Linked DNA regions of Homo sapiens. The protein of the gene in region 2 purifies or fractionates together with the protein of the main gene of each other region. This does not show direct contact. Each region holds a gene or a part of one and is shown on either strand. Other genes may lie near its edges.

Region 1 (3,500 bases), on a different chromosome or scaffold from region 2:
GCATGAGCCACTGTGCCCGGCCGGATACAGCTGTTGAGTTTAACATTTGTGGGGTGGGTTGTTTTGTTGTTGAGATGGAGTCTCACTCTGTTGCCCAGGCTGTAGCACAGTGGCACAATCTCAGCTCACTGCAACCTTCACCTTGCAGATTTAAGCAATTTTCCTGCCTCAGCCTCCAGAGTAGCTAGGATTACAGATGTGCACCACCATGCCCTGCTGATTTTTCTATTTTTAGTAGAGATGGGGTTTCACCATGTTGGCCAGGCTGGTCTCGATCTCCTGACCTCACGTGATCCACCCACCTCTGCCTCCCAAAGTGCTGGGAGTACAGGCATGAGCCACCACGCCCAGTCAACATTTATATTTCAAGAAATGTTAATAACTACTTTCTGAATATTTGTAAGACACCCTTGTGGTAATACATACTTAAAACTAAATTGTTCATTGATGTTCCCTAAATGAGTCTGTTCCTTAATGACCCATCACCAATTCATGATGAACTTCAACAAAGCTTCCAAAAGTCTCACAATTCACTTCAGCGTTGGGAGCACTTGAAGAAAGTAGCCAGCAGATATCAGGTATATGCCACTGAAATCTGTATTACAGATATAATAATGCAATTCTTAATTAAATTGATTGCTTTGCCTAGTCAGTTAAAGATGGTTGAAGATCGTTTTTTTAACTTTCTTTAAAGAAATCTTCAACAGTTCCTACTGATCCTCATGTTGGCCTTGTATCTGCTTTTAGAATAACATCAAAAATGACAAATATGGACCCTGGCTGGAGTGGGAGATTATGCTCCAGTACTGTTTTCCACGGCTGGATATCAATGTCAGCAAAGGAATCAATCATCTACTGAAGAGCCCTTTTAGTGTTCATCCTAAAACAGGTACTACACAAGGAAACTAAGGAAAACTAAAAGAAAAATGAGTTGCTATTGGCTTTAGTAAGCATGGCATTAGGTCTGAATATATATAATGTCTATGATTTAAAGGTAGAAGAATTGCTCTGTCACCCAATACCTAAGTCAGTTAAGTAGCTACCAGATGAGTTTCTACTATGTAACTGTTTTTCAGTTGGGTTTCTGAGGTTCCATATTAGATTTGGAGAGGACCATCAAAATCTTAGGACAACAGCTCTCATTGTACAGATGAGAAAACAGTGGCCCAAGATGTAACCCATCCAAGGTCATAAAAAAAAAATTGTGTGTGACTGTATGTGGTAGCTTGCTCCTGTAATCCCAGCACTTGAGGAGGGCAAGGTGGGCAAATCACTTGAGCCCCAGAGTCTAACACCAGCCTAGGCCACATGTCTAAACACCCTTTGTACAAAAAATACAAAAATTAGCTAGACGTGGTGGTGCATGCCTGTAGTTCCAGCTACTCAAGAGGCTGAGGCAGGAGGATCACTTGAGCCTGGGAAGTTGAGGCTGCAGTGAGCTGTGATGGTGCCACTGCACTCCAGCCTGGGCAACAGAGTGAGACCCTGTCTCAAAAAAAAGAAAAAAAGAAAGAAATGAAATGAACTCTACTCCTAGCACTGACAAAAACAAAAAAAAATTTTTTTCGAGAAAGAGTCTCACTCTGTCACCCAGGCTGGAGTGCACTGGTGCAATCTCGGCTCACCGATCGGCTCAAGCGATCCTTCTGCCTCACCCTCCTGAGTAGCTGGTACTACAGGCATGTGCTACCACAGCCAGCTAATATTTTGTAGACAGGGTTTTGCCATGTTGCCCAGGTTGGTCTTGAACTCTTGAGCTCAAGCAATTCACCTGCCCCAGTCTCCCAAAGTGCTGGGATTACAGACAAGAGCCACTGCGCCCAGCCTCATTACGTCACTTTTGAGATGTGTTAAATTCTATATGGTATCCTAGGGGGGTATTATAAAAGAGTAGAGGAATTTCTATTTTATTTCCTAAATGCTTTTTAAAGGTGTCTGACATGTGGGTATCTGTATTGATCTCAAATAAACCAAGCCAATGTAAATATTATAGTTTCATCTATTTTGTTCTATTTTCAGGACTCACTAACTCTGAGATTGTTCTGAACTTAAATATGGAATATTTAAATATACTTTATTTCTAAATATAGAAATAAAAGTAGGGATAAGAGCAACTGGGAAATAGCTCAACAGTCTTCACATTTGCTTATTGGTTTTTGTTTTTGTTTTTTTTCTTTCCTTTTTTTTCGAGACAGAGTCCCACTCTGTCACCCAGGCTGGAGTACAGTGGCGCGATCTTGGCTCACTGCAGCCTCTGCCTTCCAGGTTCAAGCAATTCTCTGCCTCACCCTCCCAAGTAGCTGGGATTACAGGTACCCGCCACCACACCCAGCTAATTTTTGTATTTTTAGTAGAGACGGGGTTTCACCATCTTGGCCAGGCTGGTCTTGAACTCCTGACCTTGTGATCCACCCTCCTCAGCCTCCCAGAGTGCTGGGATTACAGGCGTGAGCCACTGCACCTGGCTGGTTTTTTAAAGAGAAATAAAAGGCATGCTGGACATGGTCATTCACACCTGTAATCCCAGCAACTCAGGAGGCTGAGGCAAGAGGATTGTTTGAGGCCAGGAGTTCTGGGCAACATAGTGAGACCCCAACTCAACAAAAATTGAAAAACTGGCCAGGCCAGGAGCAGTAGCTCACGTCTATAATCCTAGCACTTTGGGAGACAACTGAGGTGGGAGGATCACTTGAGCCCAGGACATCAAGCCTGCAGTGAGCTATGACCATGCTACTGTATGTACTCTAGCATGGGTGACAAAGTGAGGCATTAACTCTAAAAAAGAGTAAGGGCACAGCTAATGTGAAAGTAATTTATATTTCTAAATACTCTTCTTAACAGATAAGTTTAACCCTTTGTCTAAGCCTTAAATAAAAATTTTAACCAAAAATAACCTGTAGGAGATGACTATAATGATTTATAGTCCACAATCATCAGTTTATAACTTTTGTGTCTTACAGGTCGCATATCTGTGCCTATTGATTTGCAGAAAGTGGACCAGTTTGATCCATTTACTGTTCCGACCATAAGGTATGTTTCAGATCATTGATCACTCCTTGTTTGTAATTGTTGTTATGAATTTTAAATAAATTGAATTAGCCTCCTTAGAGAAGTAGTTGCATGGGAATGGTATATTTGGTTATGGAAACCAAATAAGGTTCAAAGGTTAGATGACGATGCCCTAATAGAACAATACAAGATTTTCACCTGCTGTTATGTAAGAAAAAGATTTTAAGGTCAAGTAAATTTAGGAAATTCTGACTTAAACAGATTAAAAGTATCTTTTACTACAGTATTTCACAGTCTTTCATATGATAATATGCATGAAAAACTCCAAGAAGAGATCATGGTGTTTAGAATATCCCAAATTTAGCTGGCCGCATAATTTTTTTACAGTAAATTTTATGGGATTCACATGCTATTATACACTGGATAATGCTGATCAGAAACCAACATTAAACTTCTCTTGTTCGTGGTGAGGCGCGGTGGCTCATGCCTGT
Region 2 (3,500 bases):
AGGCTGGGAAAGAAGGTAGTGGCCCAGAGGTGGAAGTGCACCTGGTGGGTGTGGGAAGCCAGGATGGAGCGAGCTGAGGAGGAGCTGTGGATGCGGCTGCAGATGTGATGGGCGGGGGAAGAGAGGAGCAGCAGGAGGGGCCTGGGAGGTTTCCACAAGGCCTGGCTTTGGCCTGTGGTGGTAATACCAGGGGGTTTGGGCAGGGAGTCACAGGACCTGACCTCACCACTGACAGAATAAGCAGCACCACGCTTTGGACATCATCCACAAAGCAATGAACAAGCATTAAATGACTTAAACAGGGGAAGAGAGTGGTCCAATGTATTTGGAGAAGTTAAAAAGCCCTCTGACCACAGGAGAGGCTAGATATACTTTTGAACCCTTATTTTTTTGCTTTTTTTTTTTTGAAGCAAGGTCTTGCTCTGTCACCCCGGCTGGAGTACAGTGGTACAATCACAGTTCACTGCAGCCTTGAACACCCGGGCTCAAGCGATCCTCCTGCCTCAGCCTCTCAAGGAGATAGCACCACAGGCATGCACCACCACACCTGGCTAATTTTTAAAACATTTTTTTGTAGAGATGGGGTCTCGCTATGTTGCCCAGCCTGGTCTCGAACTCCTGGCCTCAAGTGATCCTCCCACGTTGGCCTCCCAACGTGCTGGGATTACAGACGTAAGCCATTGTGCTGGGCCTTGAGCCCTTGTTTTACCATCAGGCATTATTCTCAGATCTGTATGTAAATCGACTCATTTCATCTTCCCAGTCACCCTATGAGGAAGGTGTTACCAGGAGCTGCATGTTACAGTTGAGGCATCCAAGACCTAACGTGGTGAAGGAGCCCACCCGAGGTCCTAGGGCAGGGGCAATTAGGACCAGGTTGTGTCTGCCCCCGACACAACCAGGAAACACATCTACCTCTCCCGGGCAATTTCTCCAGAATTCTCCTGAACAGCTGCTGCACTCTGTTCCAAAGGTTAATGGGAATTAGTTTCTTCTGGTAAAAATGGGCAGGGTGATGGGGACCTACCTGGCCTTTAGCAGGGCTAAGGGCTTCATCCTCCTCTTCCCCTTCGCTGCCCAGGACCCGGGCCGCCTTCCTCCCTGGCCTCTTCACCGGAGAGTCACTCTCGGACACCACTCCATTCCACTCCTTCAGTGCCGCCCTGGAAGGTGGGGAAATGGGGGTGTAAAGGGGCGACTACAGCAGGCAGAGTGGGGGCACTGCCCGCAAACACTTTGGTTTCTTTGCTGTTTCCTTCCCTTCCTTTCAAGCATCCAATGAACATTTTCTGGTTGTCTCCTCAGCAAATCTCATCATTTCATCCATCAGTGCATTAATCCACCCGCCCACTCATCCACTCACCCACCCATCACACATCTCTGGAAGTCTCCAGAGTGCCTGCCCTGTGATGGGTGATGCTGAGGAGCAAATGGAGTCCCTGCCTAAGGTTGCCATTGGTCTCCAGCATCTATTGGGATGCCTTTTTTTTTTTTTTTTTGAGATGGAATCTTGCTCTGTCGCCCAGGCTGGAGTGCAGTGGGCCGAGATCACACCATTGCACTCCAGCCTGGGTGAGAGTGAGACTCCATTTCAAAAAAAAAAGAGTACTGTTGTCTTCTACTTAGATGAGACAGCATCAAGACGTGGCCAGTGGCCAGCGGCCAGCTTCTCTGCATTATGGAGAATGTCTGGTTCTAGAACGAGGCCAAGACCTGCAGAAACAGAGACGTACAGACAACTCCGAGGCCCTGGATCCAGCTGTGCCTGCAGCTGCTCTTGCTCTTGGACTTCTGGCCACCTGGCTGAAAAAGTTTTTTGGGCCCCAAGACATTTTGCATTAGGTTTGAACACTTGCAACCAAGACAATCCTGACTGCTAAAGGAAAAAATTCACCATATCCCAGCCCTGTGACATACTTTGGAGGGGGCTCCGTCTCTCTGCTGCTATTGGATGCCTCCTTCTCAGGCTTCTTTGCTTTACCCTCTTTCTTGGGGTGGAAAAATGACCTAGAGGAGCATAAAAGGGGGTAAAAAAAGGAGAATAACAGCACCAATACCCTGCCTATCTATGCTGTATCCTATAACTTCCTTTTTTTTTTTTTTTTTTGAGACAGAGTCTCGCTCTGTAGCCCAGGCTGGAGTGCAATGGCGCAATCTCAGCTCACTGCAAGCTCCGCCTCCTGGGTGCATGCCATTCTCCTGCCTCAGCCTCCCAAGTAGCTGGAACTACAGGCACCCGCCACCATGCCCAGCTAATTTTTTGTATTTTTAGTAGAGATGGGGTATCACCGTGTTAGCCAGGATGGTCTCGATCTCCTGACCTTGTGATCTGCTTGGCCTCCCAATGTGCTGGGATTACAGGCATAAGCCACCGCGCCCGGCCGCATCCTATAACTTCTAACACCATTTCCATCTCAGCACATAACAGAGAATTTCAAATAAGCCCTTTAACTTAACTGATAAGGAAACTCAGACTCAGACAAAGGAGGCAACACTAATTTTTCTGCCCTAACGCACCTGCAAGATATGATACATCCCAAGTTTTATTCAACAAATATTAACTATGCACTTTTTAAATCTTTTTTTTTTAGACAGACTCTCGCTCTGTTGCCCAGGCTAGAGTGCAATGGTGTGATCTCGGCTCACTGCAACTTCTGCCTCCCAGGTTCAAGCGATTCTCCTGCCTCAGCCTCCCGAGTAGCTGGGATTACAGGTGCCCACCACAACGCCCAGCTAATTTTTTTTGTATTTTTGGTAGACACGGGTTTTCTCCATGTTGGCCAGGCCAGTCTCAAACTCCTGACCTTAGGTGATCCACCCACCCTGGCCTCCCAAAGTGTTGGGATTACAGGCATGTGCCCCCGCGCCCAGCCTAAAAAAATTTTTTTTTTTGAGATGGAGTTTTCACTCTTGTTGCCCAAGGGTGGAGTGCAATGGTGCAATCTCGGCTCACTGCAACCTCGGCCTCCCAGTTTCAAGTGTTTCTCCTGCCTCAGCCTCCTGAGTAGCTGAGATTACAGGTGGCCGCCACCACGCCCGGCTAATTTTTTTCATTTAGTAGAGAAGGGGTTTCACCATGTTGGTCAGGCTGGTCTCGAACTCCTGATCTCAGGTGATCCTCCTGCCTCCCAAAGTGCTGGGATTACAGGTGTGAGCCACTGCGCCCGGCCTACCTAAGCACTTATTATGTGCCAGGGCCTGTTCTGGGCCTGAGGGGTTTGGCAGTGACCCAGACACACGAAGTTCCTGCCTTCAAGAAGCTAACACTCTGGTGAAGGGCAGAAATATTAAGCAAACAACTAAATATAAAATGTTGGGGCCTGGCATGGTGGCTCACACCTGTAATCCCAACACTTTGGGAGGCCGAGGTGGGCGGATCACGAGGTCAGGAGATCAAGACCATCCTGGCTAACACGGTGAAACCCTGCTTCTACTAAAAATACAAAAAAAATTAGCTGGGTGTGGTGGCAGGCGCCTGTAGTCCCAGCTACTCAGGAGGC

The links.
Region 1: the proteins of LIG1 (region 2) and PRIM1 fractionate together in Homo sapiens (co-fractionation; one large-scale study listed by BioGRID). This does not show direct contact.

The regions. Positions count from the first base shown.
Region 1 is NC_000012.12:56,738,824-56,742,323, reverse strand, and holds part of PRIM1 (DNA primase small subunit), read left to right. Parts: intron 1-486; coding exon 487-578; intron 579-747; coding exon 748-889; intron 890-2,960; coding exon 2,961-3,030; intron 3,031-3,500. UniProt on the Homo sapiens protein: Catalytic subunit of the DNA primase complex and component of the DNA polymerase alpha complex (also known as the alpha DNA polymerase-primase complex - primosome/replisome) which play an essential role in the initiation of DNA synthesis.
Region 2 is NC_000019.10:48,160,345-48,163,844, forward strand, and holds part of LIG1 (DNA ligase 1), read right to left. Parts: intron 2,008-3,500; coding exon 1,918-2,007; intron 1,164-1,917; coding exon 1,028-1,163; intron 1-1,027.